Homo sapiens: one gene and its partner. The protein of the gene in region 1 interacts with the protein of each later gene in a pairwise test. Each region holds a gene or a part of one and is shown on either strand. Other genes may lie near its edges. The genes, in order: GABPA and ZC2HC1B.

Region 1 (3,923 bases):
AAAAATACAAAAAATAGGCGGACAAGGTGGTGCGTGTCTGTAGTCCTACCTACTTGGGAGGTTGAGGCGAGAGGATAGCCTGAACCTGAAAGGCGGAGGTTGCAGTGAGCTGAGACTGCGCCACTACACTCCAGCATGGTGACAGAGCAAGAGTCTCAATTGGAAAAAAAAGAGAGAGAGAAGTTTGGAAACTACTTGGCTGTCCAAGAAAACAAGGCACAAATGTAAATTATTTTTGCTTGAATTTTAATCCATCTTATATTTCAGTCACTGTTAAGACACCGAAAGCAACCCATTCCTTGACAGTTTTGCATATCAGAAATGCTAGCCAGACCCACATATTTTTCAGAACACATGACTACAACATACTCTGACTTTGCTTTTGTATCAGTTATGGATGAAAATGTTAATGATAGCATTTTGTTTTATTATATACCCAATAAGGAGAGAGCTCTGGTGGAGGGATTTTTCCACCGTAATTCAATGCTTGCAGTTTTCATTCAAGGTGCTTTCTCTGGCCAGGTGCAGTGGCTCACTCCTGTAACCCCAGCACTTTGGGAGTCTGGGGTGGGCAGATCACTTGAGATGAGGAGTTGAAAGTGCTTTCTCTGCTGGTGAATAAGAAATGAGCTCTGGAGAGAGGCATTTCTTAATTGTTTATAATTTTATTCTTGTGAGGATTCTCCCAGATGTTTTTTTTAAGTATCTATGATACTAAAAGACTTAGTACATTCATTGTATTTGCAGCATTTATTTCCAATTTCCATTCTTACTAGATAAGTAAGTTGAATGTCCTGGTTGAAGCTTTGTCCTTGGTTTCACAGATTTCCTTCCCTGCAGAGGTTTTGAAATGAATAAGGTAGATTCTGAATTGTGAAACATGTGAGTCATGTTTATTGAAACACTTTCTTATAAGAAATCTCAAGAACACAACAAAGATAGTGCATAGATGGTAGTTTCATTTTTCCCAAATCCACGTTTTTTCCAGTCTTTCCCAGGTCAGCTGTTTGTTGTGGCTGTCTCTTTCTGGTTCTCTTATTGCTTCTCAAACTTTAAAGCTTATTCATAGGCTTTTCCCAGAACAGAAGTCAAAGGTGTCTTGTGTATCTTTCCATTTCCATGCAGTTGAATGAGTCTTCCTCAGAAAAGCTCTGCTCTGGAACCATTGCTTTGTCTTTTAAAGCAACAAAGTCCCACAGCCTAGATGAGTGTCTCACGGAATTTCTTGGTGATCCAGCCATGGTTCTTCACTCTGCCGGGGTAGGGAAATCCCATCTGCTTTGGAAATCTAGTGCTCAGTTCAGAATTGGGAGATGGGCAGGATGATGTGTAAGGGTATTTCTAACAGACTTTCTAGAATTCACAAGTCTTACTTCTCAGAATAGGGTTTTTTGAGCTCAGTGTAGTTAGTACTCTGGTCCCTTCTGTAGAGAGAAGTCTGCAGCCTATCTGCGAAAGGCACTGATTCTGGGACAGAACTGTTAATAACCCAGCCTCTATTATCCATCCTCAGTGATCTCTCAAGAAGCAGCAGTACTGAAGAGGTAGGGCTCCTTCTTCAGATATTTGTATGAGATTATTCACCTGAGCCACCACCTGCCTGCAGTCCCCCCTATGTTGAAACTACATCCAAGTCCCACTATACATGGGAGGATAATTAGGAAATGTCCCAGTACTACCAGTTCCATGATGTCCTTCTCGGTGTGAATCTCTGTCTTCTGTCACCAAAGGCAAATGAAGTTCTCAGTTTGCTAAGGGTTTTATTTAGGAAAAATAATTGTTTTATTCCTGTAGTGTCTAATGTTTCTTCATAAAATGGCTCCATATCCCCCAGGGCTTTGCCTCTCAAGACTGCTTACTTTGTGTGTAGCAAGGATTTGGAGGTTTCAGGGAGGAATGTGATATTCAGAGTGCCTGTACTTTGAAGAGATTGGTCTTGGACCAGTCTTTCAAAAACTTTTTTTTTTTCCCCCTGTGGTCTGCCTTCTGTCTTGAGAGTTTCCAGGAAACAGACCAAACTCCAATCTGAGAATTAGGACTTAGAAGGTGATTTTACAAGTTGATTATGCCTGTGCTGTGTGATGGTGATGCTTTCGTTTGCCTCTTTTGAGGCTAGGTTCCTTTAGTCTCAAATAGTTCCTCTTTGAGGAACTTTTATAAAATTCTGAGGAAAATTTACTACAAACATAAAGTGCGTATTTTTTTTATCAAGAGAGACCACAGTTCTGGAGGAGAATGCTCAGAACTAGGAGTCTGGATAAAACAGTGAGGTTGTCAGTTGACTGAAAAAGTAACTGTTTTGTGCACTGTGCTTTTTAAAAACATGTTTCTTTAATCCTCACAATAACCTCATGAGGCAGTAAGTATAGGTGTCTAATTTAAACTTGAAGAAGTTAATGTTGAAAGAGGTCGGTAATTTTACCAAAGTCATATAGTCAGTAAGAGCTAAGAACTAAATCCAGATCTGTCTGAAGCCAGTCCCATATAATTCTTAAGTCCTCAGTCTTCAGACCCTCAAAGCTCCCATCTGATAGGATTCTGACCTCTTTTTACTTCCCCAACCTTTTCCAGCTCTGCGTGTCTGGAACTGGATCCTGGCAAGGCACCCTTAGCGGAGTCTTCTTGGGAGCCCAGGCCTCAGTACCCAGAATGATTGCTGGAGGGTATAGTTTCAATTTCAAGAGAGAGGCATGCAATTTGTGATGGGCACAAAGTAGGCTGAAGTAATAGAGACTGGGATGTGCAATTCTTGTGAGAGGTAAAGAATAACATCTAAGTAGGGAATAACAACAGATAAGTAATGAATGGTTCTGTAAAGCCTTATCTCAGGACCTTTATAGTATTTTTATTTTGGGAACTATATTTTTAAATGTGAAATTATTTAGTTTAATTGAGACATTTAGGACTGCTACAATTGTGTTGAAAATTTGCTGTCTTTAAGTAGAAGCATTATAAAGCTTAAGCAGCTTTAGTCAAAAGTGGATGTTATAACAAATAATGGGAAGGAGGCCTTTTTGGTGGAGATACGTACCTAAATAATTTAATTTTGGTGTATATTTTATCTTTGATCTGATCTTGAAGATTTCCATATTTTTACATGGCTTTATGTGGATTTCAATACAAATGTTTACATTTAGAAAACCATAGTTCTCTGCAGAACTTTACTGAACACTAAAAGACATTGGAGCTTTTCCCTGTGTTATTTCTCTTAAGGTATCTTTTCCTTTTAAAGTGACTATCAAATATTTTTAAGGTTTTTATGCCAGTAAGTTTCAGTTCAGTGTTTTGGTTTTAATTGTGGAGTTCTTTTTAAAAGAACCATGTTTATTAAGTTGAGTTTTATTGGATTGGGGTTTTTATATTTTTGGTTTTAAATAAAAACAAAAAATTTTTGTTTTTTTCAGATGTATTGGCAAGTCAAGAACAACAGATGAATGAAATAGTTACAATTGATCAACGTGAGTATTTGTACCTATATTTGCCCTTTTATTAATAAGAAATGTTTATTTGATACCGCAAGGTAATAAAAAGGAAAATTATTTAAAAAAATTTTTTTTCTACACACAAAATATCTTTTGTTCTGTGGAATGAAAGCTCGACACAAGTACTTTATAAGATCCACTCATGTGTTTTTAAATGATACGATTAACATAACAGCTTGCTTTGTATCTCAGTTCACCAAAATTTGTTAGGACATCATTTGTTTCATCTTTACTGACTGTTAATTACCAAGTTGTAAGAACAATTCTAACCACATTCATACCTGACAGAACTTTCATGCCTGATAATAACTGGATATTAGGTAGCATCCAATTGAAATATCAGTATAGGTTGGATACAGCAGAGAAAATATTCAAGTGTCCAAAACAAACTTGAGGAGTTACAATGGGTTTGAAATGAAGAAAAAAGGCCAAGTTAAAATA
Region 2 (3,923 bases), on another chromosome or scaffold:
CACCACGCCCAGCTGATTTCTGTATTTTTAGTAGAGATGGGGTTTCATCATATTGGTCAGGCTGATCTTGAACTCCTGACCTCAGGTAATGCACATGCCTCGGCCTCCCAAAGTGCTGGGATTACAGGCATGAGCCACTGCACCCGGCCAGTACTAAAGAATTTATATACATATAACTAGAGTTATATATAACATGGCCTAACATGCATGAATGTGCCAGTAATTTCCCTTTTTTCCTCAGCATGATTCCCTATTTTCATGATTCAGTTTTTGAGACATGCCTATATTCTACTTTTTAGTGACTTAGCTAAGTCTGTCAATGATTTAAATTTCTAGGATACTGTGACAGTTTATGGGGACAGTGATATAGAATATTTATAATTGTTATTTTTCTATGAGGCCTGGGACATTCAGTTACCATTTTGCATAGCTACATAGACACGGATACACAGCACAATATTGGCATTTTAAAATAATGCTTGGTTTTCCACTTTTCTCTGAGATCTGGCCACCATATTCCTCGAAAGAATTCATTTGGACTCTGACTTTTAAAATCATTACCTATTGAAATAAATAGGACATGGTGATTTTATGAAAACATTATTGATAGAGGAAGAGAGGTGACTCCGATTGAGCTGAGTGTAGAACATGTAGCTCAGTTATGCTGGGTTCAGATTATTGTTGCAGAAAATACAACAATTCTCAAAATATGTGAAGTTCAACATAAATAGAAATCAGCAACCTTGAATGCTCAGCCACAGGACTCTCTCCTGCCTGCTCTCTGCCCCTCTGGTGGGGCCTTATGTTCCTTCTGTAGGGTCCCAGAGGCCCTAGTGCCTCTTCTTCTACAGTTTATCCCACCAAGCAGTAATTGTCTGTTTGCCTAATCATCTCTGAGATTTTCATTGGCAGGGAAATAGACTTCAACTTTGCTGTCTCCATGGTGATATGTAGTACCAAACACAGAAGGGTGGCAGTGAGTGAATGAGCAAGTGGGATTAAGGAAGCAACTCAGTATTGCCATGATCATTGTCTTTGCCTAATGTGAGTAGGGTTTATGGTTGCAGCATTTCTTATGTAAGACTTCACTTTCCAGCTGGCAAAATTGAAGAAATAACCACCAAGCTAAAAGCCATGTTCTAGATGGTTCTTCTAAACCATTGTAAATGAATTCTGAATGATAATGGCACTTTCTATTGTACTTTTTTCCTAGGCAGTTTCACTTCTATTTGGTAGTTGGAAACACAACCTTGCTGAACCTGTTTCCTTATAGCAATAGCTAGCATTTACAAAACATTTAGTATGTTCCACCCCGCCCACTGTGCCAGGCCCTTATGTGGATTTTCATAGTTAACTTTCACAACAACCCGATGAAACAGGTGATATGTAGGTGCTGGGAAAATGGAAGCTTAAGGAGGTTGGGTAACTTGCCCGAGTTCACACACATAGCAAGTAAAGAACTCAGGCTCAAAACCAGTCAGGCAAGCTCCAGCACTGGGCTTTTTATCATTTCCCAATGCTGTCCTGTTCTATTTTTTTTCAAGGCATTTATCTCCGTGTGAAATTTTTATTTATTTGTTTCTGTGCTAGAATGCTTACTCCTTGATTTCAGAGACATTGCATCCCCAGGTGTAAGACAGCACCTGGCACCAAGTAGATGCTCAGTCAGTGTTAAATTAATGATGAGGTACTGCCTTCTGGATGGAGTAAGAAATAAAGGATAAGGCTACCAGATAATTCCTAAGTGCTTAACAATTGTTACATCTTATGAATATACATTTTAGGAAATGATTTGTTCAAATAGGAAACTCCCCAAACTGCTTAAAAAGGTGGCTTACAAAAAATTCTTAACATCACTACATGAAATACCCATCCACGCATGTAGGAATTTTGACTATACACTAACACAAGTTCTACACTGAGTTTGAGGTTGATGCAGTTTCACACCCTTCCTGGGGTCGGGGCGGTGGGATTATTTTATGTTGCTGATATCTAGTGTGCTATCCCTTTAAGGTGCCTGAAACAAAACAAAGCAAACACCAATCCCTGCTTGATTTAGAGGGGTAGTTGCCAACCTAGTTTTGCTATGAGCAGCTCCACATTCTAAGAAGATCTTGCCTGTTTCCCACTTCTCATTTCTCTCCGTAACCAATTATGTCTGTTAATTGCAAATGAAAGAAGAAAAAAAAGATATTATACAGAACCACAGAGAACCTGGGGCCGACAGGAGCTGCCTGGGCCATTGCATCTCTGGAAGCTGAAGCTGTTTTCGGTGAACTTTCCTATCATCCCTCCTTCTTTCCCTTTTCTGTTTTTTGAGTCCTCACCTTTTATCCTATTACTATCTCCTTCCTGAATATATTGCCTGCTCACTTAGTAGTTAAGTGAAAAAAAAAATCTAGCCACTGCAAAAGCAGTATGTCTTTCTGCCAGTGACACAGTCCCATTGACTTCCATTCATATCTCCCAAACCCACATTTTGAAACATCCCATCTCCCTCTGTAACTCTGTAACTTCTCTAAGACCCACCCAGCACTACAACCTATGCTTTTGAATATTCTGTGCCCTACTGTGCCATCAATACTAACATTCTGTGATTCTAGAACTACTTTCTTTACACAGGATTTACTAAATAATTCATTTCATTGAGAAGTTCTTAAGATTAATTTTCTTTGTTTTTCTGGAAAAGTACATCACTTAAACATTTCAAGGACAGACAATTGAAATGAATGCACAGGTTGTGACATTTTTCCATGCCATGTCCTTTAGTTGAGCCCTGCATGTCTTGCCCTTTGGAATAGTCTCAAACCAGAGTTTGGGACCTTGTTCTTTCATGTTGGAGCAGAGTTCATATCATTACTTACATATTTATTTATTTACTTATTTGAAATAGGGTCTTGTTCTGTTGCCCAGGCTGGAGTGCTGTGGCATGATCACAGCTGACTGCAGCCTTGACCTTCTGGGCTCAAGCTATCCTCTCAAGTGGCTGGAACCACAGGCACACACCACCACACCTGGCTAATTTTTTGTAGGGACGGGGTTTTGCCGTGTTGCCCAGGCTGGTCTCAAACTCCTGGACTCAAGCAGTCCACTCACCTCAGCCTCACAGAGTGCTGGGATTACTGGCATGAGCCATCATATCCTTATTTCACTTCATGTAGTTCATTCTATAATTCTATAGTATTCTATAGTTGTTTTTGAAGTGCTAATTGCCATTTGTTGTTATCTTTACATTCAGATTATATTCAACGTCCATATTGTATGAGAAGGTTTAATGAAAGCGCAGCTGAGCGACATACTAATTTCTGCAAGGATCAGTCTTCTCGCCGAGTCTTTAATCCAGCTCAGACAGCAGCCAAATTGGCATCCAGAGCTCAGGTAACTATCTCTCCCCAGGTGTTGGCTCTTGTGCCCTTGAATGCCTAGGGGTGAGCCGGTAGAACTCCCTAGAGAACCTCAGTTACCCATCCTAAGAAGTGTAAGCGTGAAGAGAGCTGATCATGATTGCTCACCCCTGTGGGAGCTGACTTCTTTTGCAGGAGAATGCTTTCCAGCTAAGGCACCTTTGGGTGTTGTAGAAAAAAATATTTCTAAAGTATTTGAAGCTTCTTTGGGTGAAGACTTGAATACATAGTGTTTCTATAGCATTATGGCAAAACTCTTTATCCAACAGTATCAACCTTAATCACCCAGAAAAGAATTGCGAACCTGAAGTGAAACTGCCTGAGTGGGACAGGCTGTCCCAAGGCAACTGCCCCACAGGTCATGTGTTTTGCTCTATAGAGGAGGGGTCTTCACCTTTTATTTAAAGTCACAGAATCAGCAAGTTAAAGGGATATGTGGATGAATGGAAGCAGCTGTTAACATTAGGTGCAAATCAGTAAAATAACAACCTGAAGTGGAAGACAGTAGATTTATAAACC

Evidence for each region.
Region 2: the proteins of GABPA (region 1) and ZC2HC1B interact in binary tests that used the Homo sapiens proteins (3 or more experiments, as listed by UniProt).

Annotation. Positions count from the first base shown.
Region 1 is NC_000021.9:25,758,908-25,762,830, forward strand, and holds part of GABPA (GA-binding protein alpha chain), read left to right. Parts: intron 1-3,404; coding exon 3,405-3,458; intron 3,459-3,731; exon of another isoform or gene 3,732-3,923.
Region 2 is NC_000006.12:143,895,314-143,899,236, forward strand, and holds part of ZC2HC1B (zinc finger C2HC domain-containing protein 1B), read left to right. Parts: intron 1-3,238; coding exon 3,239-3,378; intron 3,379-3,923.